Regions from separate parts of the Homo sapiens genome. Here all the other regions are linked to region 3. The links come from fine-mapping of genetic effects on gene expression. A gene starts in region 3. Each other region holds a variant in brackets. All regions are shown on one strand. Distances are from middle to middle.

Region 1 (10,348 bases), 96 kb before region 3:
AACAACTGGACATTCACATGCAAAAAACTAAATCTTGACATACAGACCTTACTCTTTTTACAAAAATTAACTCAAAATGAATCATAGACCTAAAGGTAAAACCCAAAACTATAAAACTCCTAGAAGATAACACAGGAGAAAACCTAGATGAGCTTGGGTTTGGCGATGACTTTTTCTAGATACAACACCAAAGACATGATCCACAAAAGAAAGAATTGATAAGCTGGCCTGCATTAGAATTAAAAACTTCTCTGTGAAAAACTGTCAAGAGAATGAGAAGACAAGCTACAGACTGGGAGAAAATATTTGCAAAGGACATATCTGATAAAGAACATTTCTGGACTGTTATCCAAAATATGCAAAGAACTTAAAACTCAAAAATAAGAAAACGAACAACCCAATTCAATGTCTTGAGGATAGGTTGGAGATGGCCATTAAACACTCTTGGGTAGATATCAGACTGGGTAGATACCAAGACCAATTGTTGTGTCTCAATTGGAAGCTCAGAGGAAAGTTTGAGGAAGCAGGTATATAAATTTAGAATCATTACTATATGGATATTACTTAAAACCTGAGGGCCAGAATAGCTCACCTTAGACAGGTGAGAACAGAAAGAGGAGAAGGCCCAGAAATGAGCCTGATGCAAAAGGTCTCTGGAAAGAGGAGGGGCCAGCAAATCGCAGCAAAAAAACTGCCGAGGCCGGGCGCGGTGGCCCATGCCTGTAATCCCAGCACTTTGGGAGGCTGAGGCAGGCAGATCACTTGAGGCCAGGAGTTCAAGACCAGCCTGGCCAACATGGTGAAACCCCATTTCTACTAAAAGTACAAAAATTAGCCAGGCGTGCTGGTGCACAGCTGTAATCCCAGCTACTCAGGAGGCTGAGGTGGGAGGATCCCTTGAACTCAAGAGGCAGAGGTTGCAGTGAGCAGAAATGGTGCCACTGCACTGCAGCCTGGGCAACAGAGCGAGATCTTGTCTAAAAAAAAAAAAAAAAGAAGAAGAAGAAGAAGAAGCCAATGAGAGAGGAGCAAACCCAGAGAGGCTAGTGTCAGAGCAGCTGGGAGACAGAAACGGTTTCAAGAAGACAGCAAATGTTGCTGAGCAGTTGAAAAAAATGAAGATGAAAGATGTTCTGCTTGAGGGTGGGGCACGGTGGCTCACGCCTATAATCCCAGCACTTTGGGAGGCTGAGGCGGGCGGATCACCTGAGGTCAGGAGTTTGAGACCAGACTGGCCAACATGGTGAAACACCATCTCCACTAAAAATACAAAAATGAGCCAGGTGAGGTGGCAGGCGCCTGTAGTCCCAGCTACTCGGGAGGCTGAGGCAGGAGAATGGCGTGAAGCCGGGAGGCGGAGCTTGCAGTGAGCCGAGATCACGCCACCGCACTCCAGCCTGGGCGACAGAGCAAGACTCCATCTCAACAAAAAAAAAAAGAAAAAGAAAACAAGAAAAAAAAAATCCAGCACGTTGAGAGGCCAAGATGGGAGTATCACTTGAGGCCAGGAGTTCAAGATCAGCCTGGGTAACATTGCAAGACTGTCTCTATCAAAAAATAAAAACTAAAAATTAGCTGGATGTGATGATTGTGCCACTGCTTTTCAGCCCGAGTGACAGAGCAAGACTCTGACTCTAAAAAAAAAAAAAAAAAAAAAAAAAAAAGGTGCTGCTGGACAAGTTCTGTTTAATTTGAAAGCAAGTTCAGATTACTCTTTTGAGAAGTTTTGCCAGAAAGGGGACAAGAGAAATGGAAATGGGGGAGATGGGAAGCAAAGAGGTTTTTTTGTTGGTTGGTTGGTTGGTTGGTTGGTTGGTTGGTTGGCTGGCTGTAGATTTTTTAGCAACGGAGCGTGCCGGGGCATGTCTGGATGTTGAGGGGAATGTTCCCGAGAGGAGGAGAGCTGGAGGCTGATGAAGCAAGAGGGAGAGGGGTGACGAAAGAGACCCAGTCCTTAAGAAGCTACAGGGGATGAGAACTGGAGCATAGGTGGAGGGACTGACAGTTGGTAGAAGCAGGAATGCTTCCAGTAAATAGGAGGGAAGGCAGGGCTAGATGTGTAGCTTCCATTTTCTCAATGAAATTGGAGTGAACGCCATCAGCAGAGTGGGTGTGGAAGGCGTGGGTGTGAAGGGAAAGGAGAAATTTTGACACAGCCCTCTTCAACGTGCCCTGTTGTTTTTTGTTTTTTGAACCTAGATTCCAAGAGCTAACACAGAACCCTGCAGGGCCCCCCGTTCATGAACGCTTTAGTTACTGGATTGTGTTGCTTTCACAGGGTGACAACATTTTATCAACCTGGGCGGTCTACAGCGCTTCCCAGTGGGGGTCAGTCCTAGGAGAACCAGGCCCTCTGACTCCTCTATGCCTGTTCTTTACTTTGCTCCAGGGAATAAAAAATACGAGGGTTTCAGTGTTCTCTCATTAGGCTCTGCCTTTTATCTTCCCATTTTTGTGATAAGATTCCTCAGTTCTTGCTCTCAAGAGGCCCGCCAAATCTGAGCAGTCTCTATTTGGGGCAACTACACTTCTTCGAGAAAGTTCCATCCCTTTCGTAGAATAGAGCAGTCCTGGCTGCTGATATCAATGATATAAATGGGACAGCGGCTGCGGAGAGTGACGTGTTTGGTTCCCGGCCTCTCACTGCAATCCTTTGAAATCCCATGGAAGTGCAGGCAACAGACCACCCCTTGAACTTTTGAGGCTCTTGTCTGAGTGGATTAACTAACCCTGTTTACTAATCTCTCTCTTCTCCCCCTGAGGATCCTTGTCTTTAGAATTCAGTGTTCTTTTTGCTTCAAACAAAGCCTCCAGTTTGCTGCTCTTCTGATCACAGCATGAGAGCAAGCTGATTTGCTTTGGTCAAATGTTGTGTGTAAGTGATTTCAGCCATTTGGCTTATTGTATTTGCGTCATTTTGGGGTGAATTCCAAGGACCTTGGGACATCATTACTTTAAACTTGAAAATAGATTTAATGAAGAACTGTATTTCTAGGGAAGAGACTTGGTCAAGTTTTATTTCCAAGGAAGGAGCCTATTCTGTGACTTAACTCCTACAAAGCCACGTAGGATATCTGGTTTGACTGAGGGCTTTATCCAATTTCACAATATAGCAAATGGAAGATGTATTTCCTTATTATGCACTCATTGAATAGTAATGATGAACTCAGGCATTGGGACCAGGGTCCCACCTTTCACCTGTTAATGCCTCCAGACATCACAAACACTATTGATTGTTTAACCATCGCCGTCTCACAAACCCACCACACCCCCCTTTTCCTTGCCAACAAAATCTCATTTTGCTCCATAGACAGCGAGTGTGCTCAGCTTCAGAAAATGAATCATTATGGCTCTAAATTCATCATGATATCCCACTTCTCCTTTGCCAGTGATAGGGCTAGGCAGGTGAGCCAGCTCTGGCCTGGAAAGTATGAGGGTCTGGGGAGCAGGCTTGGCAAAGCTTTGCCAGGGAAATTTTTCCTCCCTGATACAAAAAGGGAGACAAGAAAAGCTATCCATTTTGTCTCTTTTTTTTAATGTTTTGAGACAAGGTCTTGCTCTGTTGCCCTGGCTGGAGTGCAGGGGTTGCTCACTGCAACTTTTGCCTCCTGGGCTCAAGGGATCCACCCGCCTCAGCCTCCCAAAGTGCTGGGATTACAGGCGTGAGCCACGGTGCCTGGCCAAGCTATCCATTCACCCTCCTCCTCCTGCGAGGGCTTGGGGTGAATTCCAGGGCCCGCTGGACATCATTCCTTTTTTTTTATTTGAAAATAGATTTGATGAAGGACTGTATTTGGAGCTATGGAAAGGAAAACCGAGAGGCAGAGAAGCAGCCCCTAGACTGTTAGCCAATCCGGGTTGGAGCAGCCGCCCACAGACGTCATCTTTTGTGTAAGAATTAAATGCCCTCATGATTTCAGTCACTTGTAGTTGAATATTCTGTAACTTGTGGCTAAAAGCCTCCAGATACATCTGAGTTCACAGAACTTGCTATGCTCAAGAGCATATATAACTAACACCTTCATCCTGGCTTAGCAAAAACAATTCCCCATCCCCCACTTGGCTGTAAAGCTATGGTTCCTTACTAGCTTGTTAAGTACTGTTAAATACCGAAGAGTATTACAAAAGCAAAGTGTTTTCTAGAACTAGATTCTTCTGGTTTTCTAGTGCAGTTTGGCTAAGTGGGATATTAAAAATAAAATAATGTTTTAATAACTCATCTATAGAGAAGAGAATGTCAGTATTTCTAAACAACCATCTTATTTTATTAAAAAAATTTTTTAGAGACAAAGTCATGGTCTGTCACCCAGGCTGGAGTACAGTAGTACAATCATGGCTCACTGCAGCCTCAAACTCTTGGTCTCAAGTGATCCTACTGCATCAGCCTCCCAAGTAGCTAGGACTACAGGCGCATACCACCACCATGCCCAACTATTTTTTTATTTTTTTGTAGAGATGGGGGTCTTGCTATGTTACCCAGGCCGGTCTCAAACTCCTGACCTCAAGTGATCCTCCCACCTCGACCTCCCAAAAGTGCTAGGATTATAGGCATCAGCCACTATGCCCAGCCTAAATAGCTATTTTAAGGTTTTCTTCTTTAAAATGTTTTTTAAACTTTCTGGTTCAGAATTTGAGTTCTTAACTGGATCAAACTTTGAGAATTATTGGAAACCCACCATAAACAGTTACTCTTGCCTGAGGCAGTAACTTTTTTTTCTGTAAAAGCTCACCTGTATTATTAAAACCCAAAATATTCCTCATCCTTTATGGCTTGGCCTTTGTTAACCTTATTCGTCTATCACTTCAGCACTTTACCCATATTTATCACTGGAGGCTTAAATTTGTTGATATTTTTTCACACTTTTTGTCCTTTCCAGTTCCTTCATATCTTTACACCTTGTGTCCCTGAAAATGTGGGAATATGGCCAGACCTCATCGTGGGGACTGCTAAGTCAGTTTCACAGATGACAACAATGTGGAGAGTTACAGAATCAACTGATTTATCAGGTTTTCTGTTTTCATATCTTTTCCTGAGAGTACAATTAAGGCATTTATATTAAAATCAGTTCCTGAAATCCCCTGATAGTAACAAGCAAAAACAATAATAAAATAGCACTTACTCAGAGCCTAAAGTAAACCATGCAACAAGCCCAAATGAAAGAAGCATAACTTTTTTTTT[TC/C]ATTCTGGGTTTTAGCTTCTAAGGTGATCCAGGCAGATTTAGTTATTGGCAGTGGATACAGGTTATTTGCTTAACTAAATGAATTAGGGGCAGGGTGTGGGGAAGAAGGAGGAGAAAGGAGGGTGATAAAAGAACACTGAACAAGTTAGGACGGAACTTTTACAGTGCAGATATGCAGGCTGATGAGCATTTCTGAAAGTAGCTTAACATATTTTCAGATTCCACATCAAGTACTGATTGCATTAAGCAAGATGAATAATTTATCTCCTTCATCACTAGAGCAAAAACTGATAGTGTAAAATTTATTATATTTTTTTTTTTTTTTGAGACAGGGTCTTGCTGTGTCACCCAGGCTGAAGTGCAGTGGCCCCCATCACAGCTCACCTCCTGGGCTCAAGCGATCCTCCTGTGTCAGCCTTCTGAGTAGCTGGGACTACTGGCGCATGCCACCATGCCTGAGTAATTTTCGTATTTTTGGTAGAGATGGGGTTTTGCCATGTGTCCCAGTCTGGTCTCAAACTCCTGGGCTCAAGCAAACTGTCTTCCCCTGTCTCCCACAGTGCTGGGATTACAGGCATGAGTCACTGCACCCAGACTGTTCATTAGATTTAACAAGTATGCATGAGCCCAGGCCTGCACCAGGCAGTAAGGACTATTGACCTACTGAAACCCAGGCCTGTAGATCAGAGATTTAAAAGTTGTTTCAATTTTACTGGAGATTCTAATTCAGGGAGGGGATTGAGTGATGACATGGAGAGGCCATGTCATTGGAAGAAGAATTTATGAGTTGTATTTGCCAAGGGATGAGGGCACATCATGCATGCAGGGCCACATGGGGAAGCACCAGGTTAGGTCAGGAAGGAGAAGTGGTGAGAAGAAAGCCCAGGCCACAGCGTTTATTGCGGTTGCCTTGGGAAAAACAAGGCGGGGCAGGAGAAACAGTGTAGGATTGGCTATTTCAAATAATTTGGGCAGGCTCTGGGCTATAGGAGTGGTCTGTAGTTGTCTGGTACCTGGCCCTGGGTGATTTCGGGCAGAGGAAATACTGGCTGGTGTGTAAGAGTGAGATAAGGAAGTGTTTGGGAGTATGGACTCAAATGATTGGTTAGAGGGTTTGTAATATGATTTTTGTGCATCTGGGAAACCTGGATTGCAGAGGAAATAGAAATAATCATGGCCATTAATTTGGCCTTGTGACTAATGAATACCAAACAGACAAATACAGAATCTAAGAAAACACAAAACAAAAGTCCACATGATCAGAGCGTCTCAGTGAAGATGAATCATCTTACATAAACACACAGCTTAGAAACTGGCCCATGCACCAGGCAGCACGTGGAAAAACAATTAGCCACATGGCTATTCCATGTCTTCATTCTAACAATGTGTAGTGAAGCATTTGGTCTTGCCCAGAGGGTGATCTGGCCTTTGCCCTCAGCTTCTGGGATTAACCTCAGTCATAACTTATAAGAGTATCTTGGTTTAGGGGATGAGATAACCACACTGGATCCTGGGGTACATACTGGCCATGCCAGAAAGACCCAGCAGTGTGATTTAGGGTGAGAATTTGGGTCATGTAGTGTCAGCTGACTTTCAGAATGAGATCAGCCATGTGGGCAATCAATAAACCCATCAGGCCTACAGAATGAAGCTCCAATAAAAACTCTGGACACTGAAATTTGCTTGTACCTCTTTGGTTGACAGTACTCAAGGTGTATCCTCACACACAGATGCCAGGAAGGTAATGTGTTCTAACTCCACAGGAGAGGACAATGGAAGCTTCATGTTTGATAAGCCTCCCAGACTGCCCTGTGTGTCTCTTTCTTTGGCTAATTCTAATCTGTATCTTTTCTCTATAATAAATCAAAACCATGAGTATAATAGCTTTCAATAAATTCAGCGGGTCCTCCTAGTGAATTATCCAATCTGAGAGTAGTTTGGGGGAATCCCCCAAAGTTGAGGTCAGTGTCCAAAATGAAAGCAGGGTTAGGAATTGTGACCTCAGCCTTTGCAGTTTGGCTGACTCTGGGCTTTATTTTTTAAAAATAAAACCAAAAAGAAAGATATTAGGTAAAAAATGGAGGGTTCTCCTCCCTTCCCTGGCTTTCTCCAGAGGATTTCTCTGTTAACTGTTTCCTTCTGGTTTATCTTTCCAGACATTTTCTGTATAAATATAAACATGTATGCACAGTCTCTTTTTAAATCATAAATGAGATTGTGCTCCATAGCTTTCCCTGAAACTTCCTTTTATCACTTCCATGTCATGAGTATTTTTTGTGTCAGCACATCTGGACCTATTCCTGAGCTTTTTGATGGCTGAGTGATATTTGTTTGTAAGGCTGAACTCTCCTAAGACAGGAACCAAGTCTAAGGGATCTTGAGAGATCACGTGACTTCATGTGCATAGAGCTCCTAGAAGAATGCTGGCACAGAATAAGCAGGCACCACGTGTTTGTTCTCATTTATTTGTTTATGTAGCCAGCCCTCTCTTGTGTACATTGAGATTTCTAATTTTCCCATTATTCCCAAAAGGCTGCAGTGAATATGCTTGAGCTTCTACATATACTTTCACATTTAGGATAAATTCCTGGGAATGGAATTGCTGGATCAAAGGGTATGCATTGCTGGGTGGTGTCAAATTGCTGTCTGAAACGGTTGTACCATGGCCGGGCACAGTGGCTTATGCCTGTAATCCCAGCACTTTGGGAGGCCAATACAGGCAGATCACTCGGGGTCAGGAGTTAGAGATCAGCCTGGCCAACATGGCAAAATCCCATCTCTACTAAAAATACAGAAATTAGTTGGGCATGGTTGTGCGCACCTGTAGTCCCAACTACTTGCGAAGCTGAGGCAGGAGAATTGCTTGAACCTGGGAGGCAGAGGTTGCAATGAGCCAAGATCATGCCACTGCACTCCAGCCTGGGAGCCAGAGGGAGATTCTGTCTTAAAAAAATAAATACATACATACATAAATACATAAATACATAAATCAAAACAAAATAAAATAAAATAAAATAAAATGGTTGTACCAGTTAACGTTCCCACCTCACCCCATGGTGTGCTCGATTCCCAGACCCCCAACTACTGAGCATTATCAACCTTTTTAGTCTTTACCAATCCAATCGATTTTTAACATTTCAATCTCCTTGTGGTTTAGTTTGCATTTCTTTACTGGTGAAGTTGGCTATCTGTTTTATATATTTGTTCATTTACTTTATTGAACTTTTTTTTTCAGGCTGCTTGTTCGTGTACTTTAATATTCTATTTGGTTTACACAGATTTCCCCATTCCATTGGAAACTGATATCTTGAGCGAGATTCAGGCAACATGAAAAGGTACCGGGATGCTTTCCCAGCCATCATTTCCATGCCATCGTGACTTCCACTATGTTTTAAATTTCCTTAAGGAAACAAAGCAAAGCAAAATGAAAAACAGTGAAGACTGGAAAGAGGGATTAATTTTCTCTGGTTGGTTGAGGAGCTTTTATTTGTTTGTTTCCTCCTCTCATCTAAATAGATATCCTTTATTTTACCTTTATTTTAGGAGTCTCTCCATTGCTCCAGTGTGGAAACCAACCCACCAGGAACTGAGTTATTTTATTCTTTAATTTAAATCAATCTGACAAATAAATATCCTTTAATTTCTCAACCCAGCATAGATGATGGTATGTAACAGACTGGTAAACCACTTTTGTGTTTTGGTAAATTTTTTGCACTTTTATAAGGCTGAATTTCCTTACCAAAAGTAGTTTGTTTGACTTACATGTTGTTTTAAAGATATATCTATTTTTTTATTTTTAGGGTTTTTTTTTTTCAGAGATGGGGTCTTGCTGTGTTGCCTAGTTGGGGTCTTGCTGTGTTGGCTAGTCTCCAGCTCCTGTGCTCAAGCAATCTTCCCACCTCAGTCTCCTGAGTAGCTGGGACTATAGGTGTGTGCCACTGTGCCCAGCTAAAGATGTATTCTTGATTTTCAAGTGCATTTCACATTTTGCAAAGAATATTTGCATAAACTCCTCAAGAATTTGGTTTCTTCAAAAAGGAAATGGCCGGGCACGGTGGCTTATGCCTGTAATTCCAGCATTTTGGGAGGCCAAGGCGGGCGGATCAGGAGGTCAGGAGTTTGAGACTAGCCTGACCAACATGGTGAAACCCTGTCTCTACTAAAAATACAAAAAAAAAATTGCCAGGCATGGTGGTTTGCACCTGTCGTCCCAGCTGCTAGGGAGGCTGAGGTGGGAGGATCACTTGAGCCCGGGAGCAGAGGCTGCAGTGAGCCAAGATCATGCCACTGCACTCCAGCCTAGGTAACAGAGCAAGACCGTCTCAAAAAAATAAACAAAAAACAAAAATGGAGAGAACCCAAGATGTGGTCCTGCCTTTCTTCGAACCTCCTTTTCTTCTAATATTGACCTCCTAATTGGGGGTCCTTGTTTGTCAACTGTACAGCCTCCTTCTTTCCTCCTCTCATTTCTCAGAACTTGTGACAGTTGGTATATGGTTCATACATACTGGTTTATTTCACAGTTTTACATATTCAGATCCATCTTTTCTCCCCTGTGAAGTTATAAAGCTCTTATAGATTAGGTGCTGTATTAGTTATACAGTGCTGCATAACAAGTCACCCCAGATTTACATCTTCAAACAACAATAACATTTATGACCTAGCAGTTTTTGCAAGCCAGAAGTCGGTGGAAGCAGCTCATCTGTGCACAGCAATCCAAGGGCCGGGCTGGAGCTGCAGACAGTACTCCCGAGGTAGCTCACTCTCGTGACCGCAAAACTGGAGCTACTCAGTTTCTCACCATGTGGACTGTTTGGTGGAGCTACTTCCCAGAGCCACTCAGGAGCCCTCATAACATGGCATCTGGCTTTCTCCAGAGTGAGTGACTCAAGCAAGAGCAAGGCAAAAGCCATAGGTCTTTTATGGCCCAGGCTCAGGAGTCAAACACTGTCATTTCCAAAATATCCTATTGGGTACCTACATCAGTTCTCCACAGGGTCATGAATACCAGGAAGCAGGAATCATTTGGGGCCATCTTAGAGGCTGGTTACCACAGGGACCCTGTCTTTTATTCCTTCTGTATGTTATGCCATATAGATCAGATTCTGGCATAGGCATAATCAACCCGAACTATGCAGAAATATCATAATGAATCAAGAAGCAAATTC
Region 2 (10,348 bases), 36 kb before region 3:
CAGGACTATTTTCAGTTTTAGTGACTAGAAGAATCACCTGGGGGCTGCTGGTTATAAAAAAGAAAGAAAAGCAGACTTATGACCCCTGTCTCTGGAGATTTTGATTTGTAGGCCTGTGGTATCCAAGGTATCTATGATATCTTGGTATCTTGGATACCTGTGGTATCTTGTGTGATCCAAGAATGATCACATTAACTAAGCACCACAGGTACTATTAACCTCCTGGATTATCTGTTGATTCTTACCAGTTTTTTTTCTTGAGCAGAATCCAAATTCCAAGCTCTGGAGACATCAAGCTTGGTCTTACTTTGGAAACACTCCCAGCATTTCGGATTTAGGCATTTCCTCCCTAAGCATACAGAAATAGAGTGGGTGTCCTGAGCCAGTCTCATTCATTCATTTGACAAAACTTTTTGAGTATCTGCTAGACCCTGTTCTAGGGTCAGGGAAATGTCAATAAAACAAATAGACAAAAATCCCTGCATTCTAGCCGGGAAAAACAGTGAGTTAAATCCATAAACATACTAGGTAAGCAGTACTATGGGGAAAAAATAAGCAAGATAGAAGATGTGAGTGTGGGGAACTGCAGGCGTCACAGTGTTTTATTTTTTAATTTCTTTTTGTAAAGATGAGGTCTTGCTTTGTTGCCAAGGCTGGTCTGGAACTCCTGACTCCAGTGATCCTTCTCAGCCTCCCAAAGTACTGAGATTACAGATGTGAGCCACCACCCTGGGCCAGGTTGCAATTTTAAATGGGGTGTTCTAAGTAGGCCTCACTGAAAAAGTGACTGAAAAGTGAGCAGCGTGGCTCTCTAGAAAAGTGTCTCATGCATAGGAGACAACTAGTGTAAAGTCCCCAGTCAGAAGGTGAACACACCTGGTATGTTTCCCAGGAACAATTTAGAGGCCAGGATGGTTGAATTGGAGTGAGAGAGGGAGAGGGTGGCTGAGCTAAATTCAGAAAGGTTACAAGGGAGCCACATCATACCCTTGGAGTCCATTGCAAGTTCATTGGCTTTTCCTGAGTGAGATGGGGAGCCACTGGAGGGTTTGAGCAGTAACATGCTCTGACTGACTTTTTTTTTTTTTTTTAGATTCAGAGCGTACCTGTGCAGGTTTGTTACATGGATATATTGTGTAATATTGTGATCTGAGCTAGTGAAACCGTCACCCAGTGAACATTGTACCCAATAGATAATTTTTCAACCCTCACCACCCCCCACCCTCCTCACTATTGGGCTCCCCAGCGTCTGTCGCTTCCAATCGTTATCTGGCTTACATTTTTGAAGTATGACTCAGGCTGCTGTAAGGGGAACAGGTGTGGAAGGAGGGAGACTGTTTAGAAGGCGAGCCGCTAAGCCGGGTGGGAGACATTGGTGGCTGGCAGTAGGCTAGTGGCAGCTGACTTGAATGTGAGAGAAAAGACTAACAGACTTGAATGTGAGAGAAAAGAGATGTCAAGGAGGATCCTCTTCAGGATAAACCTTGGAATTCTGGCTTGGAATGCTGAGCAGAAGCATCCCCAAATGATACAGCATATGGCCTGCAGGTTTCTGGCCACCATCCTACACCCAGAAGCAGAGCCAGCCTGACGGTGGAGCCAGTGCTGCATGTGGCAGGGCAGAGTGGCAGAAACTGGTCCTGAGGACAGCGGTGAGCCGCTGGATCGACACCCGAAGCCCGATCTACCTCTGCACTTTCAGTTACATCACCAAGGAGCTCCCTTGGTTATTTTCTGTTACTTGCATCCAAAAGCATGCTCACTGCTATTCTGATCCGGAGTCGCAGAAGTCTCTCAGATGCAGTTTGCCAGAGAAACTTTTGGAAAGACTTTACTCCTACATACACAGTCTTGATGGACTTGGGCAGATAATTGGGAGAATTCCCCAGGTTACCAGGCAGAGTCTCTTGCTCTCTACCTTCCCTTTCCTTCAGTCAGGAGTCTTTCTCTGTACTGGCCTGCCCAGTGTTGGAGGTGGGTGACACAGGCACTCCTGTAGCCACCACAGTTGCAACTATGCTGAGTTGCATCTGAAGCCCTGAAGACCAGCACAACATTGGGGTTCACCCAAGGGCCATGGCCAATCTGCGTGACTGCCACTGGTGTTATTCAAGGCCAAAGGCCACTTTAGTTGCCCAGGCGGGAGTGCAGTGGCACGATCTTGGCTCACTGCAACCTCTGCCTCCCAGGTTCAAGCGATTCTCTTGCCTCAGCCTCCTGAGTAGCTGGGATTACAGGTGTGTGTCACCACACAGAGCTAATTTTTGTATTTTTAGTGGAGGTGGGGTTTCACCATGTTGGCCAGGTTGATCTCGAACTCCTCACCTCAAGCGATCCACCCGCCTCAGTCTCCCAAAGTGTTGGGATTACAGGCGTGAGCCACTGTGCCTGGCTAAGACTTTTTAAAGAGCAGTTTTAGGTTCATAGAAAAATGAAGAGGAAAGTACAGATTTTCCATATATCTCCTGCCTCCACGCATGCACAGCCTCCCTTACTATCAACATCCCCTACCAGAGGGGTTGGTATCTGTTACAGCTGATAAACCTACATTGACACATCACTATCATCCAAAGTGCATAGTTTACATTAGGGCTCACTTATAGTGTTGTACATTCTAGTGGTTTGGACAAGTGTATAATTATATATACTTTGTATATTATTATGCAGTGGTGTCATACAGAGTATTTTTACTGTCCTAAAGATCCTTTGTGTCCCCACCTATTATTCCTTCTTCCCTCCAAACCCTAGCAACCACTGATCTTTTTACTCTCTTCAAGTTTTGCCTGTTCCAGAATATCATGTAGTTGGAATCATACAGCATATAGCCTTTTCAAATTGGCTTCTTTCACTTGTTAATATACTTTTAAGGTTCCTCTATGTCTTTTCATAGCTTAATAGTTCATTTCCTTTTAGTACCGAATAACATTCCGTTGTCTGGATATATACCACAACTTATTTATTCATTCACCTACTGAAGGACATCTTGGTGGCTTCTAAGTTTTGGCAATTATGAATAATGCTGCTATAAACATCTGTGCATAGGTTTTTGTGTGGACATAGGTTTTCAACTCTTTTGGGTAGATACCATGGAGTGTGATTGCTGGATCATATGGTAAGAGTATGTTTAGTTTTGTAAGAAACTGCCAAAATGTCTTCCAAAGTGGTTGTACCATTTTGCATTCCCACAGCAATGAACAAGAGTTCCTGTTGTTTCACATCCTTGCTAGCATCTTATATTTTCAGCGTTCAGGAGTTTGGCCATTCAAATAGATGTGTAGTGGTATCTCTGTTGTTTTAATTTGCGTTTCCCTGATGACATATGTGGAACATCTTTTCGTGTACTCATTTGCCATCTGTATGTTTTCCTTGGTGGGTGTCAAAGTCTTTGGTCCATTTTTTAATTTGGTCATTTGTTTCCTTATTGTTGGGTTTTGTGAATTCTTTTTATATTTTGGATAACAATCCTTTATCAGATGTGCCTTTTGCAAATATTTTCTCTTTGTCTGTGGCTTGTTTTGTCATTCTTATTTTTTTTTAATTATTGTAATTGAGATGGGGTCTCACTATGTTGTGTAGGCTGGTCCTGAACTCCTGGCCTCAAATAATCCTCTCACCGTGGCCTCCCAAAGTGCTGGGATTACAGGCATGAGCCACTATGCCTGGCTTATTCTGTCGACAGTGTCTTTCACAGAGCAGAAGTTTTAAATTTTGAAGAAGTCCAATTTAGCAATTATTTATTTCATGGATCATGCCTTTGGTGTTGTTTCTAAAAAGTTATTGTCATACCCGAGGTCATGTAGGTTTTCTTCTATGTTATCTTCTAGGAGTTTTATAGTTCTGCATTTTACATTTAGGTCTATGATCCCTATTGAGTTAATTTTTGGTAGGAGTGTAAAGTCTGTATCTAGATTAATTTTTTTGCATGTGGATGTTCTGTTGTTCTAGCACCACCTGAAGAAGCTTTTCACAGTTGTACCAGCACTAGACCTCAGACCTCAGACCTCAGACCTCAGGGACGACTTTTCCAAAACATTCTTTCTTATGCCTCTCCCATCTCACTGAATTGGTCTCTTGGCAAATGCCAAACTCCTTAGAGCACTGTATCAGGAGCAGGGCCAGACCAGCTCAGCATGGCAGAAAGCCTGAAATTATTAGCACAACATCCCCATGTGATAGGTAGTAGTTTATTGCCTGTATTCTACAAAGTTGAAAACAGAGATTAAGGGACTTACTCAGGGTCAGAAAAGTCTTCTATTTCGAATCTAAGATTAGTCTGTCTGATTAACTAATTGCAATCCGTCTGTCACATAGAAGAGAGTAGGGCTTTTCAGGAGGAGACAATCTGGCTGGCTGCTTCACTGATTGGCAATTTATTGATACGGACACCACAGATCTGATCCTCAGCTTTACAGATACAATAACTACTGTGCCCTGTGCTCAAGGAGATTAAACTAGAAAGGATCAATTCATCATATCCAAACTTATAAGAGACTGATGTGTAAATCAGTTTGTCAGATTATTTATAATAGGAAGTGTTTCTCACACGTGAGAACCCGTAAATTCCTGAATATGTCCCAACTTGAGAAACACTGCATTCAAACTTCCATTAGGAGACTTTAGTTTAGATCACTTGACCATAACAGTCATGAATGCAAATCCAGCATGGGCATTGATGTTATGTGGCAGTACTCTGTAAAAAGGTGGTGACACTTGTGTTAAAAATTTTATATTATCTTTAAAATGAAAACGCCACATTTAAAAATTCTTCTAAAGAATTCATGGACCTCTGAAAATATTATTTAAGAATCCAACTTTAAAAACAATGCAATAAGACAAAGGCTTTGCTTGAAAACTGTGGTTGTTTATAGATACAGGATGCTCTAAAGCAAGCCCACTCAGGAAACTGAGTTGCAGATTAGAAGGTGGGTTGGTGGGAGTAGAAAAAGAACAGAGGGAGTTTGCTGTTCCCAGGGAATACGGTACTCAGACAAGGGCAGTTACTTATCCTGTCTGCATTTGTGGCACAAGTATTTCTGTTTAAGATTCTACCAGTCAGGCCAGGCGTGGTGGCGCACACCTGTAATCCCAGCACTCTGGGAGGCCTAGGCAGGTGGATCACTTGAGCTCAAGAATTTGAGACCAGCCTGGGCAACATACAAAAATTAGTCAGGTGTGGTGGTGCACGCCTGTCATCCCAGTTACTTGCGGGGCAGAGGTAGGAGGATTGCTTGAGCCTAGAAGGTTGAGGTTGCAGTGAGCCAAGATCATG[C/T]TACAGCACTCCAGCCTGGGTGACAGAGTGAGACCCTGTCACAAAACAAAAAACAAAACAAAACAAACAAACAAAGATTCTACCCGTCATGGAGAACAGAGCACCATCTTTCTTGCATTATGGTGAAGAAGCACCAACAAATTATTACTCACTAACTTCCATTTTCCTAGACTTCATTTTGAAGCTGTGAACCCTCCCTGCCATTGCATCATTTCTTGGTAAATAGGATGCCCTTTCCACTTGACAAGGAAGAGACTTGGACCAGATCCGTGAACTCCAGAGCCCCTGGCTTTTCCAATTAGCATGTTGCTAGTTTCTCTCATTGAACTAAATCATGAGGGATCCTTAAATACTACAGGAGACAGGAAAAGCAACCTTCTATCTCTTTCTCCATTTTATCCACAACAGTCTGAGAATCACTCATTCTTCTCAAATGACTTCTTCCAGTGTTCTCGACTTACCCCTTTTTCGGCATCTGCCTTTGACTGACCCTCCCCTTTCCCATCTACAGGCTCAGTGGAGTCAGTGCTAGGAACTAGGGAGCACCCACCGCCCACTGCCACATACTCCCTCCTAGCTCAGGAGCCGGATTGGACTAGAGCCAGACCCAGCACTGGGCTGCCTCCAAGCAGCCTGGGAGAATGCCTGCTGTTCCCAGGCAGTGATTCTGGGCACGGCCTTCAATTGCCAACTCTTCCCAGGCCCCTCAGAGCCCAGAAAGGGCATGTAATCCCTTACACTGCTTGGCAAGTGCCTGTTTGTTCTCTAGCCTGGTCAGAACCAGGGAGAAGGGTGCCTGGCTAGTTGCGGAAATGAGAGTGCTGCCCAGGAGTGCTGCTGGGGAGCTTGTGGTCGGTGGACCCCACTCTAACCTGTCTGCTATACCTACTCAGTGCTGACACCCGTGCAGGTGCCACCAGTGTGCTCTTCAGTCTAGCCGGGCTGGACTGCTGCTATCACCTTTATCTGCCCTATCACTTCCTACCTGTGCATGCGGCTCATCTTCTTCCCACAGCCTGGACTGCTTGTCCATTTTAGCTCCTCCTCACCAAATCCTCCCCACCCTTGAAGAGCCACAGCTGAAACGAGCCCTCCAGGAAGCCTTCTATGATCTACAACCAGAAAGAATCCTTCTTTTTTTTTTTTTTTTTTCAACTGCCATACCCATTTTCCTGGACCTGTCTTCAAAAAAAAAAACAACATTCTATTATAGCTATTTCAATTACAGCTATATTTCAATTATAGCTATAATCTATTTCAATTATAGCTATTGATGTACATTTCTTATCTATTATACCAGGAAATAAAGTAGGCATAAGGGCATGTCTTACTGACTTTGTTTTTCCCATAAGGTTCTAAACATTGTAGGTACTTAATCAATATTTGCTGAGTGAATAATAAACGAGAAGGGTTGTGCATATGGTGCACAAATGACAGAAGCCTGGGCCCTTCACGAGTTTCCCTTCTGAAGCTGCCTCTAAGCAGGGCTTCCGGGGATTCCTCTGACTTCCTCACACACTTGCAGCTAAGGGGATCCATTGCAGCGGGGAAGGGAGCCTCCAGCTCCTCAATCCAGCAGGAAACCAGTGTTCCTTCCGACTGGTCAGTGCTTAGGCCACCCAAGTTGTGAAATATTTTGAATATCAGCCCTGCATGCAAGGAAAGGCAGCACTCAACCAGATGACATTAAAGAGACACTGGGTACAAATGCGTGTTACGGCAGTAAGACATTCTCATTGAAGGAGGTGAGAGAAGATGGGGAAGCCGGGTGTTGGAAGCTGGAAAGCAGGGGAAATCATTTCACCTTTTGTTAATTACTTGTGTAACTTTGGACAAAAGAGTACTAGCCTGGAGCCAGAGACCTGAGTTCTAGTCTGGTACTGACACCTGCACTTGGGTCTTGGGCAAAGTCACTTCATCTTGTCACAGTTAATTAGCCTACACAGTAAAAGAGGATGGTCAAGGTTATGGTGAGATACAGGGCTGCTTGGTGAATGTAGAAAGTCATGAAGCCTGGAGAACGGACAGGTCAAAGGGAAAGTGTTTATATGTTGAGCTTTCCTGTGAAAGAAAGTGTCCATTTTGTGTGTGTGTGCTGTACTTTAACAGGATACATTGGCTCTCCACCAAGCCTTGGAATTGAGCATCTGCCAAAAGATGGAGAAAATAAACAGGAGTATTCAGTGTTAACCTGACATTTCAATACCTAATGTGCCCAGTGGTCCAAAGTATTTTCGCTTGAAACAAGAAGTACTTCTTGTCAGTTCAAATCACAGTTAAACTGTGCTCTTTTTCTTTATAAAGATAGTTTTAAAAAATTTAAGTTCTTTATCATTTCTCCTCTGAAAGGGCTCACAACACACTGCCAAGTGTGCCCGTGAGCACAGAGTAGGTTCTGTAAAAGTTTGTCATCATTTATTTTATTATCATTGTTTTATGCTTTTGCTTAAGAAAATCACTTGTTGATTATATTTTTCTGTGCAAATAGAATTGCTTAATAGAAGAAAAGGAAATAAAGCAACTGTCAGCAAATTACCCAAAAGCAGAAGTTGAGTTTCTTTCACGTGAGTGTTCAAGTGTTTCAGCCACACACTCTAGTCTTGGCAGCTCATGATTGGCAAAGGCCGGAGCTGTGTTGAGCAAAGTCAGAAGTGCAGACAGCTGAGCAGCCAGAAGCATGCAGGCAGGCGGTAGACACGTGGGGTGGTGTTGGGGATGAGTCTTCGTTTGTTTGTTAAGACAGGATCTGGCTCTGTTGCCCAGGCTGGTGTGCAGTGGTGCGATCTCGGCTCACTGCAATCTCCACCTCCTAGACTCAAGCCATCCTCCTGCCTCACTACAGGTGCACACCATCATGCCTGGCTAATTTTTCTATTTTTTGTAGAGATAGGGTTTCACCATGTTGCCCAGGCTGGTTTTTAACTCCCAAACTCAAGCAATCTGCTCACCTTGGCCTCTCAAAATGTTGGGATTACAGGCATGAGCTACCACACGAGGCCTGGGGCAGAATCTTTGAGCAAGGCCACTTAGTGGCAGCGAACACCAACCACTCACAAACTCAGTTATAATCCATGTAACAGAAACTTGCTGTGGACTTTCTAATTTCTCAGACATGTGTTGTAGTTCAGGAATCTTGAAAGCTCCCCATGGGAACTTTCTCTAAACTGGTTCTGTTCAAGATCAAACCCTGACCTGCTGACTTGTAAGATAATTTTCTGCATTTGAGAAACATTGGAATCTGAAAGTCTTAAAAATAAGTATATGATAATAGCTTACAATCTGGAATAGAGATTTACAGTTTCAATAATATGCACTTAAGCTTGAATTGTTCCCAACTTCTTTTTTTCTAGATAGGAGCCATAAATATAGTACCTAGTAGGAAATAAAGGCTGATAGGTGAGCAGTGAGACAGTTGATTGTTTTTCTGGCAAAGAGAATTTTCATAACTTATTCATACACTACTGGATTAATGCTTAGACTAGCTGTTGGCTGTTTATCACCAACAAAAATTTGGTTTCTGTTTTTAATCTTGATAAGAGAGCAGTTGTTATTGTTGTCTTCAGAGAAAGAATGGTACCTGAGAGAGAGTGGCACCAACAAGTAGGGCCAGAGTTTTTACAAGGGGAGCTTTGTTACACCAAAAGGATTTGGGGGTTGGTATTTTAACACATTCTGCCTCAGAAAATTAGGTTTTCTAATGGCTTTTGTTGTTAAATGCAAGTGGATAAAATATGTGTCTGATTAGTTTCATGATAAGAGGGCAAGTCCCCAACTTTGCTTATACCAGATATAAGCTGATGCATTGGTTTTGCCTTAAGTCTGAAGTTTTAGGAAGGACTTTAAATGTAAGTATAAGTAGCAACATAGACACTTGTCTCCTTCAGGTCTTTCATCAATGTCACATCTCAATCAATGCCTACTTTGACCATCTTATTTAAAATTGTGATATCACACGCAGCCTCTACACTCTATTGCTTTTCTTCATTGCACATATCACTTTCCAACCTACGAATTTACTTATTTGTTACATTTGCTAGCTATTATCTGTCTCCTTCTACTAGAAGGTAACCTCCGCAAAGGCAGGGTTGCCTGTGTTATTCACTGACATATTTTTAGTGCCATAAACAGTGCCTGGTTTGTAGTAGGCACACAGTAAACATTTGTTGAATGATTGGATGGACATCTAAATATCTGCACTTTCAAATCCTCTTCAGATCATAGAACACTACCAATATCCAACAACCCTAAGGTGCATTTCCTTTTATTTTTATTATTATTATTTTTAGGTGCATTTCTTAAAGACAAAATCCCTGTGGGTGTATGTGATCAAAGTATAGTCTGAGTACTGGTGTTGGAACACAAATGTTTGGGGTTCCAGTCATTCTTTGAGCGTTTATGGAAGCAGCTAAGTGTCAACTTTGTTTAGGACATACGGAGGAAGCTCTCTCAGTTACTAGTAAGTCAAGGCAGCATATATTTGTGAACCACTCATTTCTGTGTACCTGGTGCTGAACTCACTGTGGCACTTCCCAAAAAGTAGTGCACTCTGCCATTGTTCTCACCAAAGTTTGCCATGTGGCTGGGGAAGTTTCCATGTAAGGGCTGCCTTACGGATCTTGACTCTTATTAGCAAGAGGATGCACCTAAGTTTGAGAAAGGAACTGCTCTAATTTGAGGGTTTTTTTCTCTAGGCCAGTGAAGATCATTAAAAGCATTTGCAATCACTTGCTTAGACCAGTGGCTGGTTCCTTTGACTTGATGACCAAAAATTTTTCAAAGTAATTATTTGTGTAGTGAGACTGAGCTGAATATTTTCAAATTATCTCTGTATCCAGGTGCTCTTGTGAGGAAGATAGCTTGCATGTTTCCCTGCTGTCCTCTACTTGCTGTAAGTGATTCAGTCATAATTGGATGCCCAATTCTCTTGTCTCTTTAACGAAGACACAAGTCTGTGTTTGACTCTTACCCTGGCTTACCAATCAGAGCTCCCCAGGTCCTCCCAGGCATGTTCCCCTGTGCTCTCACCTGATCAATACACTCATTGTCTAGTCCCGTGGTCTCTGGTCCCTCCACTTCTAG
Region 3 (8,988 bases):
AAACAATGGCCAGCACAGTACTTCCTCAAATCGTTTTGGAAGAAAAAGTATAAATAATATCCAGCACTGTGATTCTCTCCCTGCTAAGCAACTGCAATTTTGGGTTACTATGTAAATGTAGCAGTAGGTGCCATTGAGAGGCAGCTTTCTAATAAGAAAATAAGTATTTTAATTAAATTGTATTTCGGCCGGGCTCATGCCTGTAATCCCAGCACTTTAGGAGGCAGAGGCGGGCGGATCACAAGGTCGGCAGTTCAAGACCAGCCTGGCCAACATGGTGAAACCCTGTCTTTACTAAAAATACAAAACTTAGCCAGGCATGCTGGCGGGCGCTACGTGATCCCAGCTACTGGGGAGGCTGAGGCAGGAGAATCACTTGAAGCCGGGAGGCGGAGGTTGCAGTGAGCCGAGACCATGCCATTGAAAAAAAAAATTTGTATTTCAAGATTTGACTACAATACTGAAATAGGTAGGAAAAGGTGTTCTTTCAAGAGACTATCTTCATTTCCAGCCATTTTAAAAAGCTATTCCATGACAATAACTCAAGTGTGGTCTAAGAGGGTTCTCTGAATCTGACTAAAGTAGTGAGTGATGCTTTTGGTATATGCATCTTTTGTTAAAAAATTTAAAAAACGGATACATATTTGTACATATTTATGGGGTACATGTGGTATTTTGATACATGCATACAGTGTTGTAATGATCAAATCAGAGTGTTTAGGGTATCTATCACTTTGGACATTTTTTTTCCGCCCCCTCTCCCCTGTCACCTTGAACATTTGTCATTTCTTGTGTTGGGAACATTTCAAATCTTCCCTTCCAGTTATTTTGGAATATAAAATATATTGCTATTTACTATAGTCACCCTACTGTGCTATTGAACACTAGAACTTATTCCTTCTATCTAACTGTATGTTTGTACCAATTAACCAACCTCTGTCACCCTACCTCCATATGTATCTCTTAAAAGCATCGCATCAAAAGCAGTATAGTTAGTTCAGGTAGGTTTTTTTTTTTGGGACAGTCTCAGTCTTGCTGGAGCGCAGTGGTGCCATCTCGGCTCACTGCAACCTCCACCTCCCAGGTTCAAGTGATTCTCCCGTCTCAGTCTCCTGAGTAGCTGGGATTACACGTGTGCGCCACCAAGCCTGGCTAATTTTTGTATTTCAAGTAGAGATGGGGTTTCACCATGGCAATCAGGCTGGTCTCGAACTTCTGACCTCAAGTGATCTGCCTGCCTTGGCCTCCCAAAGTGCTGGGATTACAGGTGTGAGCCACCACGCTCAGCTAGGCTATTTTTTTCTTTTTCAGAAGTGTTTTTTTTGCTTGTCAAAATGGTCTGCGGACGTGCCGTCCCCACCCCCCAAAAAAGAAAGAAAAAAGACAATTCATGTCTCATATCATTTGCCAATTGGTATCAATGAAGAAACGAATTTAACTCCTGTGGCCAAGTACTTTGCTCTCAAGGTGGCTGGACTAACACTTTGCAAAAAGGGTATGGCGATAGCGTAGAACATATCCCCACTCCTGAAAAAAAAAACAAAACAAAACTGAAAATGCCTGAAATATCCTTTCTAGGGAAAGAGCTACCTTCCACCCAAGAGATCCGGGTAGGAACAGAGTGATAATAGTGACTTCCCTTCCTCCCTCCCAGTCCACTTATTTTCACCTGTCCCGCTCTTCAAGGCACCCATCTCTTTTTCCATTTTCCCCACCCCAAATCAGGTTATTTTGTGACTTTTATTTCCTTAAAAGTTTTTGTTGTAAAATAGTACATAGGTTATACGACTCAACTTTGAAAGTGACTTTTCCACTTAAATATGAGACTACAAGGACTATTAGAAGAGATGAACCCTATTCTTGGACTCAGAATTTTGAGTCTCGTTTCCGCATGTTTGTGGTTTTTAGGTTAATTCCCTGGAAATTTGATCTTTGTACAATTAAGAGCAAAGTAACCATACAATGTTTCTGATCCTGTCAGCATAGGCGGTTAAGTGCTTTGGAACTGGGATGTAAACTCAGTATCTCACAAATGGATTACCTATTAAGTTAGGACACACAAAATCTGGTTAAAGTGCTTGGACTTCACAACCTCATCCACCAGCACATCACATATCACACAAAATATAATAATCACAGTAATGGGAAAACTGAATCTTGAGCCAGATTTCTAAAAAACAGGTATTGTGGACAGTGTTTCCACCTCTTGAATTTAACTTCTTTCTTGGCAACTATACTTGAAGGTAACAGGGAGAGATGTCTCTTAGTTGGCAAAACACACACTTAAAACCTGAGCATTTTCCCCCAGGATGACAGCAAGATACCAAGGATGCCAAAGAAGGAAGGAGTGTTAACCTAATCCAGTAAGAGAAACAAGATTTTAAAATACAACAAAAATGTTCCAATGGGGGAAAAAAGGTAGTTCACCGGTTCACGACTTTAAAAAACGTTGGCAGTGGTTGATGGGCTTATTTCAGGAGATATCTGACTTGGTACCAAGAGGATAAAGAGGCCGGGAATAATACGTTTGTGCAGCAAAATGGTTATGTGACCGATTTTTTAAAACACAGAATTCTGCCCCACTGAATACATACACATACCACAAGTAAAATGAAATATACTTTTAAGTGCCCGTTTTGGTGCCACTGGCCAAAATTAAAACTCTCCTTCCGTATGTGAGGTGACTTGAGATTTCTTTTTTGCTTTAAATGCCTGCCTTCAGGGTACGTGAAAGTGGGAGACCGGTTGGAAAACTGGGGCTAAGGGGGCTGGGAGCGAGATGGCTGTGACTGAATCAGGAAGCTGGATGTGAGAGAGAAAAATCCTCCTCCAGCCTCGGAGGGGGTGTCTCCCCTAATACCAGCTCCCTCCCCCCGGGCTCGTGGGGCGGGTCTGGTTTGCTCAGTAGCGGCAGCGGCCGCAGCAGCAGCCCCGGGGCTGAGCAGCGGTGGCCTCCTGGCAGCGCAGGGAAGCGGCGGCTCCAAGAGCGCGAGGCCCTGGGGAGATCCGGCCAAGACTGCTGCCGGGATGGAGGAAGCGTCCAGTGGAGCAGGAGTCACCGGGGACGAATTTCCTCCCCAGCTCAGCTCCCCTACAGCTTGGCTAGGCCTGCTCCGAGCGCCTGCAAGGTGGAGGAGGCCTGCGCCTCGGGCCTGGCAGCGGCAGCCGGCGAGGGAGGCGGGCACAGCGGGGTAACCGGCGAGCCGTAGCCGCTCTCGAAAACCTACGCTGCCACGGCCGCTCATTGTCTCTCCCCTTCCACCCGGGGGCAAACAGGAAGCGCGCCGCCTGGCAGACCGACGGACAGGCGCCTGGACCAATGAGCACAGCCGACAAAGAGCACGGCGGCGAATGAGAGCCAAGAAGAGGGGCGGGAGTTCCGGGCGGGCTGTCACCCTCTTCCCCCCTTTTGGGCTGGAGGCTCCACCTTTTGTGTTTCCCGCACAGTCAATCAAAATAGGAAAAAAAAATCCCCGGACCGCTCCGGCCGTGTCCGCCGCCGCTTCCCGCATCCTCTCCCGCCGCCGCCGCCTTCGCTCCTCACCATGTGTAAGGCGGCGGGGAGCCCCGCCTGAGGTGCCCTAAACACACTATGACCGGTACGTAAAGCCGAGAGAGCAACCCTTGCTGCTGCCGCCGCCGCCGCTGCCGCCGACCACAGCCAGCCCGGGGCCGCTGCCGCCGGTCTCGGCCCCGTGTGTGCGACCGAGTGTCTGTGAGAGGCAGAAAGCTGCACTCCCCTGCGCCTCCCTCCCCTCCCCGCCAGCCACCGTCCACCCCCGAAGCCCCAGCAACGCCGTCTCCCCGCCAGGCCCCGGGGCGGGCGGCCCGGTCCGCCGGGAGCGCATCCCCCTGTGTGCGGGCGCGGGCGGGCGTGTGTGAGTGACTGACGGTGCGAGAGGAGCGAGCGCGAGTGAGAGCGAGCGGCGCGAAGGGAAAGGGGAGGAGAGGAGAGGGGGCAGGGGCAGCGCGGGGAGGAGGAGGAGGAGGGAAAGAGGAGGAGGAGGAGGGTTACAGGCAGCGGCGGGCGGGGGCAGCAGCAGGAGGGGAGGAGGGAGCCGCCGCCGCCGCCGCCGCCGGGGGGCGGGTGGGGGAGGGGAAGGGGCCTGGGTCCGGGCTTTGGGAGTAATTTCGCTTCGGCCCGCGGGCCCCCTCCCTCTCCGCCACCCGCCTTCCTCCCCACCCCCACCCCCCCGCGCTGTGCCTGCAGCTCCCGAAAAGCCCGTGAAACAAGAGGAAATGGCTGCCTTGGACGTGGATAGCGGCGGCGGCGGTGGCGGCGGCGGCGGCCACGGCGAGTATCTGCAGCAGCAGCAACAGCACGGAAACGGTGCGGTGGCGGCGGCAGCGGCGGCCCAGGTGAGGAGCGGCTGAACCCCGGCCCGGCTCCCCCCTCGCGCCGCTTTCTCCTCCCCTCGCCTCTCCCCTCCCTCCTCGCCTCACCCCTCCCTCCTCGTCTCTCCCCTCCCCTCCACTCCCCTCCCCCCGCCCCGGGAGCTGCCCGCCCGAGGCGCCAACGCTCCGACCCCGCCCGCGCCGCCCCGCCTCGCCCGCCTGCCGCCTTTTTGTGCGCGTGTGAGTGTGGGCCCCAGCGTGCCCTCCCGGGGGTGGGTTCCGGGCGGAAGGCGGAGGCCCGGCGCGCAGCCCGCCGCCCGCCTGCCCGCGGACCGGGGAGCCGGGGTGCTTGGAGCGGGGGACGCCAGGCGTGGGCTGGCGGCGGGACCAGGAGGAGGAGGAGGAGGAGGAGGAGAGCGCGGGCTGGCGCTTGCCCGGGCGCAGTCGGCGGGGACCGAGTCGTACTTCCTGTGCGAAAGGCGGCCCGACCCTAACCGCCACCCCCTCCCCCTGTCTCCCTCTCTGAACCCGCCCATTGGGGGTAGGACACTCAGCCGTCACCGCTCGCTCTGCTGGCCGCTACCTGCAGCAAGATAGGGCCGCCATCGCCGGGCGACGACGAGGAGGAGGCGGCCGCCGCAGCCGGGGCCCCCGCCGCCGCCGGAGCGGTAAGTCCCGCGCGCGGCCCGCCCCCGCCGAGGCCGGGCGCCCGCCATCCCGGACCCGTGGCGCGCCTGCCCAAAAGGCCTCCCCGGCGCCCGCGCTTCCCCCGACCCGCACGGGCCGCTGGGCTCCAGGGCGCCCTTTCCTGCTCTTTCGCATCCCGGTTTGGATCTGAAGCCAGCCCAGGCTTTCTCGAAATTGTCACTGCAGCACCTCGCGCAAAATCTTCACAAAATGAAGTCTGAGAGGGCGGGGGTAGAGGACTCCAAAATGGATGTTTGAGCAATTCATATCAGTGCTGAAAACTCCTTCGCTTAACACTACAAAATTTTCAAGCACAGCCTATCGGCCATAGATAGTATCAACTAGAGGCAATGTCTTTAGTTTTTATTATTTTTGAACCTGGAGCATTTTCTGTTGGACGTTACAGGATCTTACTGCTTTAAATCATACATTATTAAAAAAAATGAGGGTTTATTCTTTGAATTACCCTTTTGTATGCAGGAGTGAAGACTGCTTTTTTAGTTGACCATTCAAAATCGTTGAATTTTAGTTTTTGCAGACTACTAAAATTTGCAGTGACTTTTTTTTTGTAAGGGGGGTAAATGAAACATTTAGCAGCCTTTGAAATCAGCAAGTTGCTTAGATAGTACTTTAGATTTTGAAACTGAATATAACAGTGTTAGAAAAGTATGTGTAAGGAATTGTATTTACGTGCATACTAGTAGTACAATACTTATAGCTGAATTTGGTTGGCAAAAGTATGTTTTCATTTTATTACGACTGCTAGTCAGGTAAGATATGGTGGGATTCTTTCTGTAGTGTTTTCAGTGTCTGGGCAAGGGGAGGAGCTCGCCTGTGTTATATGAGGGGTTAATACCAATAGGATAGGAACAGTTTTTAGACTGTTAATTGTGAATTTTACATTTGGGTCATCACTGTTGTGTAGATTTGTTCACCTATTAAAATAATGAAAACCCTCATTTGAGTGTGTGTGTGTGGTGGATCATAGGAATTGATTTGTGGAGTGATACTTTCAATAGTCACTGAAGACAGAAGTTTGGTATTTGGTATAGTCTACAACAAATGCTTAGTATGTCCAGGTATTTTTTTTTTTTAAGTTAAACCAATGTTAAGCTATTACTGGTAAATAATTTGTAATTTTAGTGCTTCGTTATAGGGGATGTGAATAGTTTTAATGTCTTGTTTTTTCATAAGCAGATTAACATGTAAAAATGTAAAATTATATTAGGCTTTGTTATTTTTAAATACATTTATGGATTGGTACGCCTTCTGTTCACCTCATTTCAGCTTCGCTGAGAGTTGGTAGATTTTTTTATGAACTGTATCCCTCTAGTTCCAAAGTGCCAAAACAAATTGACTGTATCTTAAAAAACTACTGCATAAGTAAAATTAAAAAGCAGATTGCTTCTCCTGATCTTTTTTGTATTTCAAATGGAACAAAACTTTTCTTGTAACTGTAATTTGTAAAGTTTAGATATCAGTTTACAGATGGGGGAGGGGAGAAGGAAGGAAATATGGGTGAATAATATGTGTATGTACATACATATGTGAGTCTGAGGCCCAAGGATAGAATACTGTCTCCAACCTTAGCCAGCTGTGGCCATATACTTGTAGGGAAGTTTCCATGCTTCTTCAGCTGCTTTTCTGAATTACCAAATCACTCCTGACAACACATATTCTGCCACATGAAGACGAACTAGAATCAATCTGATAAATCTGAGATTTATCAATCAAATACATCATAATTTGCCAATCATAGTAAAATGAAAATAGTTTTGCCTAAAAAAAAAAAAAAAAAAAAAAAAACCCAAACCATATATTTATGATGTCTGGTACCTGCACCCAAGATTTTTCACTTTGAGTAAAATTGGTAAGACTGGCTTGTGTGTATTTGCCTTAGCAAATAGAAAATTTGCTAAAAATTTATTTTTCCAGTGCAAATATGAACTTAAGACATCTTTTCAGCACATCTTAGAAAAGGAAATTCACATGAGTTCATGGGCTTAGATAATCTTTTATTACTCAAATGACTGGGAATTATGAGAGGTTATAGCTGTGTTTTTAAATAATTGTATTTTGGAATAATTTTAAATTTATAGAAAAGTTGGAAATACAGAACTGAGTAATCTCATACCCTTCATCCAGCTTCCCCTAATGTTAGGATAATGATGATACATTTGTCCAAATTAAGACATGAACATTGGTATGACATTACTAACCAGACTTTGTTTGCGTTTCACCAGCTTTTCCACTAATGTCCATTTTCTCTTCTGGGATCCAGTCCAGGATTCCACATTGCATATATATTGTTGTGTTTAAACAAGTGGAAATATACACATACAGATGAACTTTATGCCAGTTTAGCTTGGTATTTTGAGATTAAAAGGGCCTTGAAAAGCCAATCAACTGTGCTGAAGATTGCTTTTAATATTTGGATTTTGAATTTGGAATTTGTCATAAAAGAGGATCCTAGCCAAGGGTGTTTGGTTACCCACAGTACATTGCTGAAGAAGTCTAGTCATAAAGCAGTCTCGTATATAATGTCGTACAACATGGACTCTGAAAGATGGTTTTATAGCAACGCTCCTTTGTACTTAAGTTGTGGCTAATTTTAGTAGTAAACCAGGAAATAGAAAAAAGTAGACCTTTGTGCAAGTATTAACTTTGACCAGTTTGCATTTATGTGAACTTGTGGATTATTAATTTACTTCATTTTTACTTTAGTGGAATAAAATAAGTGACTTTTATTTTTATTTTTATTTTTTTGAGACAGAGTCTCACTCTGTCGCCCAGACTGGAGTGCAGTGGCGCGATCTCGGCTCACTGCAGGCTCTGCTTCCTGGGTTCACAGCATTCTCCTGCCTCAGCCTCCCGAGTAACTGGGACGACAGGCGTGTGCCACCATGCCCGGCTAATTTTTTTTTTTTGTATTTTTAGTGGAGACAGGGTTTCACCGTGTTAGCCAGGATGGTCTCGATCTCCTGACCTCATGATCTGCCCACCTTGGCCTCCCAAAGTGCTGGGATTACAGGCGTAAGCCACTGCGCCTGGCCTAAAATAAGTGACTATTATGAAAGTGATTGCTTGATCTTTGGTTTAGGTTGTAAATTTAGTGTTCCTTAATTTGGCACATAAATGTTGAGCTAAAAAATAAGTAATAGCTTACTTCAAAAAAGTTATTTTGCCATTATTTAAAATAAGACCTGTGCTGTCATTGTAACTAATTCATTGGGTAGGGTAATTCTATTTGAAGTCTGAGTTCTTTTAGTGCTCTTTGAAGATTTTAAGAAACTTGAATATTTGCCTAAGTTCTTAATTTGTTTCCACCTCAGCTTCACACCTGTTCTTGTTTCCAGTTATACTCCTTCCTTTCCTATTTCTGGCTTTCGTAAAGGCATTCGTGGGAACTAAGTTAATAATCATTTCCAAATGCTATGCAATAGGTGGTGTGAATTTTTTCTTTTTCCGTTTCCACCGGTATATTTGTATGTAGAGAGACTTAGAGTGCCTTAGTTACAACTTTTTACTGTACTAATGCCAACATTCATGTTAGATGGTGTTTTGTTTGTTTTTTGAGAAAGGCTCGCTTTGTCTCCCAGGCTGGAATGGAGGTGTGTGATTACAACTCACTGCAGCCTCAACCACTGGGGCTCAGTTGATCCTCCCACCTCAGCCTCCCTAGTAGCTGAGACTACAGGCACGTGCCACCACGCCTGGCTAATTTTTGTATTTTTTGTAGAGATGGGGCTTCGCCATGTTGCCTAGGCTGGTCTTGAACTCCTAGACTCAAAGGATCCACCTGCCTAGGTTTTGTTTGTTAATTGTCCGGTAAGAAAGGTACTGAGAGAAACACTGGTGGATTTTTAATTTGGTTTGTAAACTTACGTAGACATAGGTTATGTAGAGGATTATCTTGCTTCTAAACCAAATACTAGTTCTCGTCTTGGTTGCCTGTTTTAATTTTTT

Alleles and levels. Positions count from the first base shown, and alleles are read on the strand shown. Sizes are in standard deviations (SD) of each study's normalised expression. Not every link is listed here.
For the expression in tibial artery of the gene that starts at base 3,391 in region 3, C is the low allele of the variant in region 2 and T is the other (moderate effect, 0.48 SD a copy in GTEx).

What was found. PIP is the estimated chance that this variant, and not a neighbour inherited with it, causes the effect.
Region 1: its variant is the best candidate, but not a certain one, in a credible set for the expression of SP3 in whole blood (INTERVAL, PIP 0.75).
Region 2: its variant is the best candidate, but not a certain one, in a credible set for the expression of SP3 in tibial artery (GTEx, PIP 0.65).

What each region holds. Positions count from the first base shown.
Region 1 is chr2:174,055,461-174,065,808 of GRCh38, reverse strand. It overlaps LOC105373746 (a long non-coding RNA gene), which reads left to right and starts at 3,178. Exons shown (of 3, transcript XR_923589.3): 1 at 3,178-3,405; 2 at 3,775-3,891; 3 at 4,878-5,059. RefSeq lists an enhancer at 2,295-2,914. The variant TC/C (reference allele first, on the strand shown) is at 5,180.
Region 2 is chr2:173,995,040-174,005,387 of GRCh38, reverse strand. No RefSeq gene overlaps it. Among named protein-coding and RNA genes, the nearest start is that of LINC01960, 25 kb to the left of the region's middle. The variant C/T (reference allele first, on the strand shown) is at 5,270.
Region 3 is chr2:173,959,776-173,968,763 of GRCh38, reverse strand. It overlaps SP3 (Sp3 transcription factor), which reads left to right and starts at 3,391. Exons shown (of 7, transcript NM_003111.5): 1 at 3,391-3,599; 2 at 4,211-4,359; 3 at 4,881-5,003. The coding sequence starts at 3,593. RefSeq lists silencers at 3,144-3,213, 3,714-3,993, 4,324-4,813, 4,944-5,193 and enhancers at 4,054-4,876, 4,877-5,700.